Linked DNA regions of Homo sapiens: region 1 is linked to region 2. A link means that fine-mapping ties the variant in region 2 to the expression of a gene that starts in the linked region. Tissue or cell type: lymphoblastoid cells. Region 2 holds a variant in brackets; the other region holds the start of a gene. All regions are shown on one strand. Distances are between the middles of the regions.

Region 1 (4,254 bases), 33 kb after region 2:
AGAGAGGTGGCGTGATGAGGTGTGGCACGGGGAAGGGAAAGGGGTTTAGAACTGTGTCCAAGCTATTTAGGAGAGAAAGGGGAGAGTCCCGGGGCTGTGAAAGGGGCGAGGAGGAGAGAGCAGCTGGGCCAGGGCGAGCGTTTGACCACACCCACTAGCCACTCCCTCCCAGCTGCCCGCAGAGCCACATCGAATCGAAACAGCAGTGGCAGCGGCTAAGATTCCGAAGGCAGGAGTCGCCATGGCAACGGGATTCATCTTGCAGGCAACTCCGCTTCGATTCACTGGGTCCTGCTCGAATCTCAAGAAACTACCAGCAAAACGGTCACGGTGGCATTTGCTCTTGATGCTCTCCAGAAAGTGGAGATGAAGGAGAGGGGAATGGAGTTCAGGCATCACTAAATATGTTATGGGGCGAGAGGTAGCTCCGCAAAGCCAGGCCGTGAACAACTTGAGACCTTAGCAGGGTTTGATGAATGAGTAAACGAACAAATGAAGGTACTAGGAAAGGCAAAGAACATCCAGAGGACTGAGAGCTCTGGGCCTCCTGCACGTCTCCACTCAGAGGGCAAGCCGATCACAAGCAGTTGGCTTTCAGAACCAGCTGGGTAAACCCGATTATCCAGCCCTCCTGCCCCACAGCGAGCCTAATCATTAGATTATCCGACACCTCCACCCCCGCGCTACCACCTCCTGGCCCAGGGCTTCAGGGCAGGCGCTTCGCCCCAGCCCAGGTGCTCTACACCAAGGGACCGTGGAGACTGAGATGCGCCCTCCCGAGAGGGACGGGCGGCAAAAGCCCTCTGCGGTGCCTCACAACCGGGTCCGCAGGCGGCGCAGCCTCCCCGGCCGCCAACACCCTGCTCTCCCTCCGCAACGCCCGATTTCCCTTCTCTCTGTTTTGAAACATTTAGGTCCAACTTAGTCTGAATTACAGGCGCTCCGTCCCTTTCGAATGGGGCTGGAAGTGAGGGTGCCAGGGGCACTGGGGGCTCTGCTCGGACGCGAACGGGTACACGAGTCCCTCCTTCCCTGTCGCCACCGCCGTGTCCACCAAGCCTGCCTCGGGGTTCTCCCTCTCGGAGCCGCCGGGCCGGGAGCTCGCGGACGCCGCTGCAGTACCCGCGGCCCCAGCCCCGGGGAGCCTTCAGCAAGGCGGCGAGTGTTACCCCGCCAGCTCCTCGGCCAGCCGGGCGCCTTAGAAAGAAAGGGAGGGACCCCAGTCCTTGGGGGCGTCTTCCTCCCTGCTGCCTCGGTTTGCGTTGCGCTGCAGCCATTTTCCCACCCCCAGCTAGGCAGCCGAGAGCTGTCTCGGTCCCGTTCCCACCCAGACCCAACCTGAAGGACGGGTTTAATATTTACCTACTGGCCCGGGAGCTCCGGGGAGGCAGCAGGAGGGCGCGCCGCGAACCCAGCGCCCAGCCCACGGAAGCACGCCCACCCCCGCACCACTGAGCAGTGCCACTTAATGAATGAGTGCGGCGGGCAAGGAGGAGCGTCCCCCTTACCTGAGCAGCCCCTGCATGCTGGAAAGGCGGCTCTGCACTCTGGGTACAATGGGATCCGGTTAAACAGTTTCCTTCACAGCCGCTCGTAGGTTACTAACTCGCAGGTGACATCACCCTCTCCTCGCCTGATAGGATACAAAGTGGCTCCCACTGCGCATGGACGCTCCGGTCGGGCGCGCAGACTCCTGGGAGTAGTGGTCCCAATCTATTAGCGGAGCCGGGACAGCTTTGCTGTCGGGACTCGCGGAACTACATCTCCCGACACACTCCTCCGCCCTTCTGCCCCGCCTCTTATTCCCGCCCCCTTCAGGACCCGCCCCCTCCCAGCCTTACAGCCTTGCAGTGTTAGCGGTGGTCGTTCCGAAGCCGAGCTGCGGACCGCACGGGAGAGTGGGAGGGCTGCCCTGCGGTCGTGTGTGTTGACTTGACCTCTACTTTGCCCGGCGCGGGCTCTGAAGGATCGGAGAGGTCCGGGGCTCGCGTGGTCCGGCCAGGCTCGCTCTAACTGGTCTTTCTTGGTCCCTGCTGGGAAGGGACGATTAAGACTTTTCTGCCTTCCCCAGGCGTAGCAGCTAATTCAGAGGGCTTACTGTTTTCTGGGTTAAATACGGTCCTCGAATTCTCCCCGCTCAACACTTCCAGAGGATGGGGCGACGCCGGTCCCAAGGCGGAGGAATCTCCTTGTACCCCCTCAATTCACCTTTCTCTTTTCTGCTTCCCGTTTAACGGAGACAAGGTGACCAGGCAGAACGCGGGGAACCACTTAGTCGGCTGAGCTGACAGAATAACGGAGGTTGTCACTACCAGAAGTGCGGTGTGATAGACTAGACAGTCGCCGCAACCCTCCGTCAGGGCGCCTGCTGCTGCTGCAAAGATAATACTATCGTGCAGCCATGCTTTTGTTCATCCCTGCAGCAGACTTCCCGCGCTGGTGGCTCTCCACTCCCAGGAAGAAAACGTCCTTGTCTAAAGTTTTAATAATTGTGTATCTATGTATACACATGTTTTTAAATCCACAACACTCTCACCTCATTTTCCATACCTTTTCAAATATTTTTATAAAGACATTAAACCAAACAACATCGTGCCGTTCAAGAATTGCCCTGCTCTTAACACACCTAAATATTTATTTAAAGGTAAGCAAAAGGTGTGTAGCAGAATTCTGACCCTTTAGGCAGGTTGTATTGTTAATACATAATTTTTTCCGTGGCATTTTTCATTATTCAGTGAATACCAAGTGTCTTTTAATATGAAAAGAATCAATGCATTTAGTTACTCGAGTTGTAAATGTAAATTTTAATGGCATTTGATGTGTCTCAATTCCATATAATGATCAGCTCACACACCCGTTCCACTAGCAAAATCTCTAGAAGACTGTGCATCTTGTGAAAAAAAGGTTCACAATTAAGATTTCAGACAACTCCCTACTGAAGTGTTGGTGGAACTCTTATCATTTATTTTCTCCTTTCATTCTGCAACACTAAGTTGGGTTCAAGTGAAAAAATATTTATGAAATTAGTTGAGGATCTCAGGGGAGAGGAAATGCTTTGTTTTGCTCAGAGAGATGTTTAGCGATGAATTCTGATGTTCTTTTAACAAGCCTGTTCTTTATAGACAAGACCCACTTTTCTCCCCCGAAAGAAGATAGCTTTGAATGTTGCTCTTCTGTCCTCAGCTACTTCTTCCATTTCAAATATTATCTAAAATGAACTCTGACAATATAAATTTTCCCCTGGCCATCAGATCAAGGATATAATCACTGATATTCTAACTAATGGGTAGACTTAATGTAACGCAGTTCATGGTGGAAAAATATTCAGAGAGAAACTTGACCTGGGATGATTCTAAAGGCTCTTCTAATTTTATAACTGTGTAAAGCTTTTAGACTGAAACATAATCAGTGAGCCTGAAATTTATTGAGTCAATAAATTGAATGTGGAGCCTTTCTGTTAAGACAGGGCTTATCCTTGTAGATAAAAGTATGTTACTGAGGCACACTCTGAGGAGTAATTTTAATGGAGAAATCACCTTACAACAAGTTCTCTTGGCTCTTCAGTAATGAAGGAGAAGATGCAGTCTGTCTGAAAACAAAAATTCCATTCTCTTTAACAATATTATAGGGATGTGCCATGTGACATAGTCATCTCCATATAAAGGACAGCATACACAATAGACTGTAAGCACATAAATGTGGAGAAATGCACATGTGAACTGCTCTTCCTATCTAATAGCTATAAATATAGATAATAGATGTAGAAAGAGGGCATTGTGTTTGGAAAAATTATCTGCAAGTGGTGATGGATTTGAACTGATCCCTGCACAGTTTCATTGGTAACCAAGGGAAACAAAGATGGCTCTTTAACATGAGAAATACAGTCTGTAGAACTAGCAGCAGAGGAGGCTTAACCACTTCTTTGGAGACAGAAGGAAACTCACACACACACTCTCTCTCACTCACTTTCATACACAATCATTGTGTATGTTTGCATTTAATTTTTTCTAGGTGGCCAAGTAGTCTCATAAATCATCAAAAACACCCACTCTGTCTAGCTAATTGATATTCTCAGTCAAAATGGGTTTCTTTACTTTCTATCTTTTCATTTTACATAACTGCTGCTGTTCTGAAGACCTTATGAAAAGCCCTGCCTCATCCCATAATCGTGGCCTATTAATTAGGAACCTGTGAGACCACTAAGAACAGATTTGACAGTCTATACAGGTAGGGGATGAGGAGAAGGCACCACGA
Region 2 (4,254 bases):
CAAAAAGTGCAATGACTAGTGGACCCATCTGGATTTTGGAGGCAACATATTCTGCATTTGGGCGTGTTACTCTAGCCCACTTACTGAGTGACCCAAAGAGCTGCTAGTTTTGAATGAGGCCCAGAATGGGATAAAGCTCTGCAATAGATCCAGGCTTCCGTGCAAGTTGCTCTTCCACTGGGGCCATATGATCCAGCAGATTCCAACATTGCCTGAAGTGTCTATCAGTGGCAGACATAGATGCCATTTAGACTCTTCAGCAGGATCCTACAAATGAATTGCAGCACCGGCTTTTAGGATTTTACAATAAGGTGTTGCCATCACCTACAGATGGCTACCCTCCTTCTGAGAGACAGCTCTTGGGCTGGGCCTTGGTAGAAAATGAGCACTTAATCATGGGCTACCAAGTTACCATATGACCCAAACTGCCCATCATGAATTGGGTATTATATGATCAACCAAGCCACAAAGCTGGGCATGCACAGCAGCACTCCATCATCAAATGGAAGTGGTATATACACGATCAGGCGAAAGCAGATCCTGAAGGCACAAGTAAGTTAAATGTCATCATGGCTCAAATGCCCACAGTCCCCACTCCTGCTACACTGTCTTCTCTAGTCCCAGCCTGCACCTATGGCCTCATGGGCAATTCCCTACAATCAGCTGACACAGGAAGAGAAGACTTGGGCCTAGTTTGCAGATGATTCTGCACTACATGCAGGCACCACCTGAAAGTGGACAGTTGCAGTATTATAGCCGTTCCCTGTGACATCCTCAAAGGACAGTGGTGAAGGGAAATCCTCCCAGTGGGCAGAACTTCAGCAGTCCACCTGGTTGTGCACTTTGCTTGAAAGAAGAAATGGCCAGACATGCAATTATATACCCAATTCATGGGCTGTAGCCAATGGCATGGCTGGATGTCCACAGACATGATTGGAAAATCGGTCACAAAGAAATCTGGGGGAGAAGTATGTTGACAGACCATTCTGAATGGGCTAAAAACATGAAGATATTAGTTTCCTATGTGAATGCTTACCAAAGAGTAACCTTCAGCAGAGGAGGATTTCAAGTGGATAGAATGACCTATTCTATGGATGCCAGTCAGCCTCTTTTCCCAGCCACTTGTCATCGCCCAGTGGCTCATGAACAAAGTGGCTATGGTGGCAGGGATGGAGGTTAGGCATGGGCTCAGCAACACAGACTTCAACTCGCCAAGGCTGACCTGGCTACAGCCACTGCTGAGTGCCCAATCTGCCAGCAGCAAAGACCAACACTGAGCCCCCTTTATGGCACCATTCCCCAGGGTCATCAGCCAGCTAACTGGTGGCAGGTTGATTACACTGGACCTCTTCCATCAAGGAAGGCACAGTGTTTTATCCTTACTGGAATGGACATTGACTCTGGAGATGAATTCGCCTTTCCTGCATGCAATGCCTCTGCCAAAATCACCAACCATGGACTTCCAGAATGCCCTATTCACCATCATAGTGAATAAGAAGCATTGCTTCTGACCAAGCAACTCACTTCACAGACCACAAAATGAGGAAAGGGGCCCGAACTCACGGAATTCAATAGTCTTACCATGTTCCCTACCATCATAAAGCACCATCCTGAAGTAGCTGATTTGATTGTACAATGGAACAA[C/T]CTTCTGAAGACTCAGTTACATGCTACGTAGCTGACAACACCTTGCAGGGCTTGGAGCAAGGTTAGCCAGAAGACTGTATATGCTCTGAATCAGCATCTGCTATATGGTAGTGCTTCTCTGACAGCCAAGATTCACAGGTATAGGAATCAGGAGTGGAAATGGGAGTGGGTGGCACCACTCACCATTACGCCTAGTGGGTCACTGGCAAAATGTTTGCTTCCTATTCCCACAACTTTATGCTCTGCTGGCCTTAGTTCCAGAGGGAAGAATGCTTCCAGCAGGAGACACAACAATAATTCCATTGAAATGCAAGTTAAGGACATCAGGCCACTTTGGGCTCCTCATGCCTCTGAGTCAGCAGGACAAGAAAGGAGTTACAGTGTTGGCTGGAGTGACCCATCCAGATTACCAAGAAGAAACTGGACTACTATTCCACAGTGGAGGTAAGGAAAAGTATGTCTGGAATACAAGAGATCGTTTAGAGCTTCTCTTAGTATTACCATGCCCAGCAACTAAGGCCAATGAAAAATGACAACAACCCAATCCAGGCAGAACTGCCAATGATCCAGACCCTTCAGAAATGAAGGTTTAAGCCACCCGACCAGATAAAGAATCATAACCAGCTGAAGGCAAAGGGAATACAGAATGAGTAGTAGGAAAGCTAGTTATGATACCATCTGTGACCATGTGACCAGTTACAGAAAGGAAGATTGTAATTACCATGAGTATTTCCTCCCTATTTTGTTATGAATACGTTTGTGTGTATATAAACATATATTAAGTAAATATCCTTGTTTTCCTTCCTCTCTTATTCCCTTATCACACAAGATGTTAATGACTTTATGTCAGTATTTCAGTAATGATAATTTTCTATACTATTTAAGTTACAGAGTCTCAGGAGAGGAGTAAACATCACTCAAGGACTTCACCTCCACTTCCAGAGAAGGGATAAGTGCACTTTCAGTTGTACACAGGATCATTGTACCTTGATAGGTGGAATTATGACCTTGTCATTGTCTTTATTTGGAGGTTAGGTATGGTTTAAGGGGATGTGTATGGATGTTAAGTTGACAAGGTAGACTTGTGTAATTTGACTGGGTTAAAGGGTACCCAGATAGCTGGTAGAACATTATTTGTGGGTGTGTCTGTGAGAGTGTTTCTAGAAGAGATTAGCATTTAATCTGTAGATTCAGGAAAGATCCTCTCTCACCAATGTGCGTGGGCATCATCCAATCGGTTTAGGGCCCAGGTAGAACAAAAAGGCAGAGGAAGGGTGAATTCACTCTCCTAGAGCTGAAACATCTATCCTCTCCTTCCATTGCACACTGGAGATCCCCTAGTTCTTAGGTCTTTGGCTCTGGTACTCACACCAGCAGTAAGTCATCCCCATCCCCCTCTGCCAGCACCACCATTGGCTATTGGCTCTCCTGGTCCTCAGGCCTTTAGACCCAGCTAAATTACACCATCACCTTCCCTAGTTCTCCAGCTTGCAGATGGCAGATGGCGGGACTCCTTGGCCTTCCTACAATAAATCCCCTTGACAGATTTCCTATTGGTCCTGTTTCCTTGAGAAAACAAAGACTAATAAAGTAAGTATTGTTGGGGCAATAATTGTGGCTATTGAGGAAACCATGTCATAAGCCAGTTCATTCTTCAAAACTAGGCAAAACTTATTTCTAATACAGAATATTTAACTTCTACCTCCCTTAAATGTTGGCAAAAATAAGACCAAACAACAATCCACTCAGCAAACATAGAGCATGTTTGCTCTAGAGTTAATCCATGTGCCACTTATAGGTTAAGTATAGGTAACAAAGTAAAACATATCACCCTTGCCTTTTAGGAGCTTAAAGTTTAATTAAGTTCCATTACACCTGAGAATAGAGCCGCCAATTCTCTGACTTCTGTGTATCTCTTCCTTTATCATTCTATTTCCTGCCAGAAGCTTCTGGCAAAACAAAATCTTGGGATGAGAGACCTTGAAATTTGGTCAAATGCTTAAAATCAAGAACTGAAACCAAAACAACACTTTTCACTGTAGTTCAGTGACAGGCAATGGATGCCATCCTGGAAAAAAAAAATCTGTATTTTTCGAAACCAATAGCTACATCCATAGCAGGAACCACTCTTGAATTCAAACATAATCTATAGCTGGCACCCAGACAAGGTAAATGTGAGCCTTTGGAGCAAGATGTTGGACCACAGCTAAGAATGAATAAAGGCATGTCCAGAAGTGGCACCAAAGTCCTCAAGGCAAAGGAGCAGACACCAAAGGGATATTAGACAAGCAGGATCCTACAGTAAGAAGACAAGAAATAAGGAAAGGCTGAAGGACTCAAAACACAGGTTGGCCAAGCTCATGTTCAAATCAAGTATTGCATGTTTATATGATGTTTATGAACATATGAAAGACACTGGCACTAAGTCTTGACTATACCTAAGATCCAATTCTAGAAAGCAGAAATTCCAGTTTTCTAGACTTTACTCTTGGAGGAAAGAGTACCGTATAATAGTCTACATACAAATTTACCATGGACTAAGAAAAAAGCACCACCAATTATAAGCAGATATGAAACAGAATAAATAATATAAAGGAAAGAATGTATAAG

Alleles and levels. Alleles are on the strand shown, and positions count from the first base shown. SD is a standard deviation of normalised expression in the study named.
In carriers of allele T in region 2, the expression in lymphoblastoid cells of the gene that starts at base 1,610 in region 1 tends to be lower than with C alone (large effect, 0.80 SD a copy in GENCORD).

Evidence for each region. PIP is the estimated chance that this variant, and not a neighbour inherited with it, causes the effect.
Region 1: it holds the start of DAAM1, and the variant in region 2 is fine-mapped to the expression of DAAM1 in lymphoblastoid cells (GENCORD, PIP 0.95).

The regions. Positions count from the first base shown.
Region 1 is chr14:59,186,023-59,190,276 of GRCh38, reverse strand. DAAM1 (dishevelled associated activator of morphogenesis 1) reads right to left here and starts at 1,610. Exons shown (of 25, transcript NM_001270520.2): 1 at 1,509-1,610. RefSeq lists enhancers at 1-27, 458-617, 328-1,087, 1,868-2,107 and silencers at 978-1,197, 1,258-1,397.
Region 2 is chr14:59,219,493-59,223,746 of GRCh38, reverse strand. The region is part of intron 1 of DAAM1 (dishevelled associated activator of morphogenesis 1); the gene reads right to left. Among named protein-coding and RNA genes, the nearest start is that of DAAM1, 33 kb to the right of the region's middle. RefSeq lists a silencer at 3,062-3,356. The variant C/T (reference allele first, on the strand shown) is at 1,645.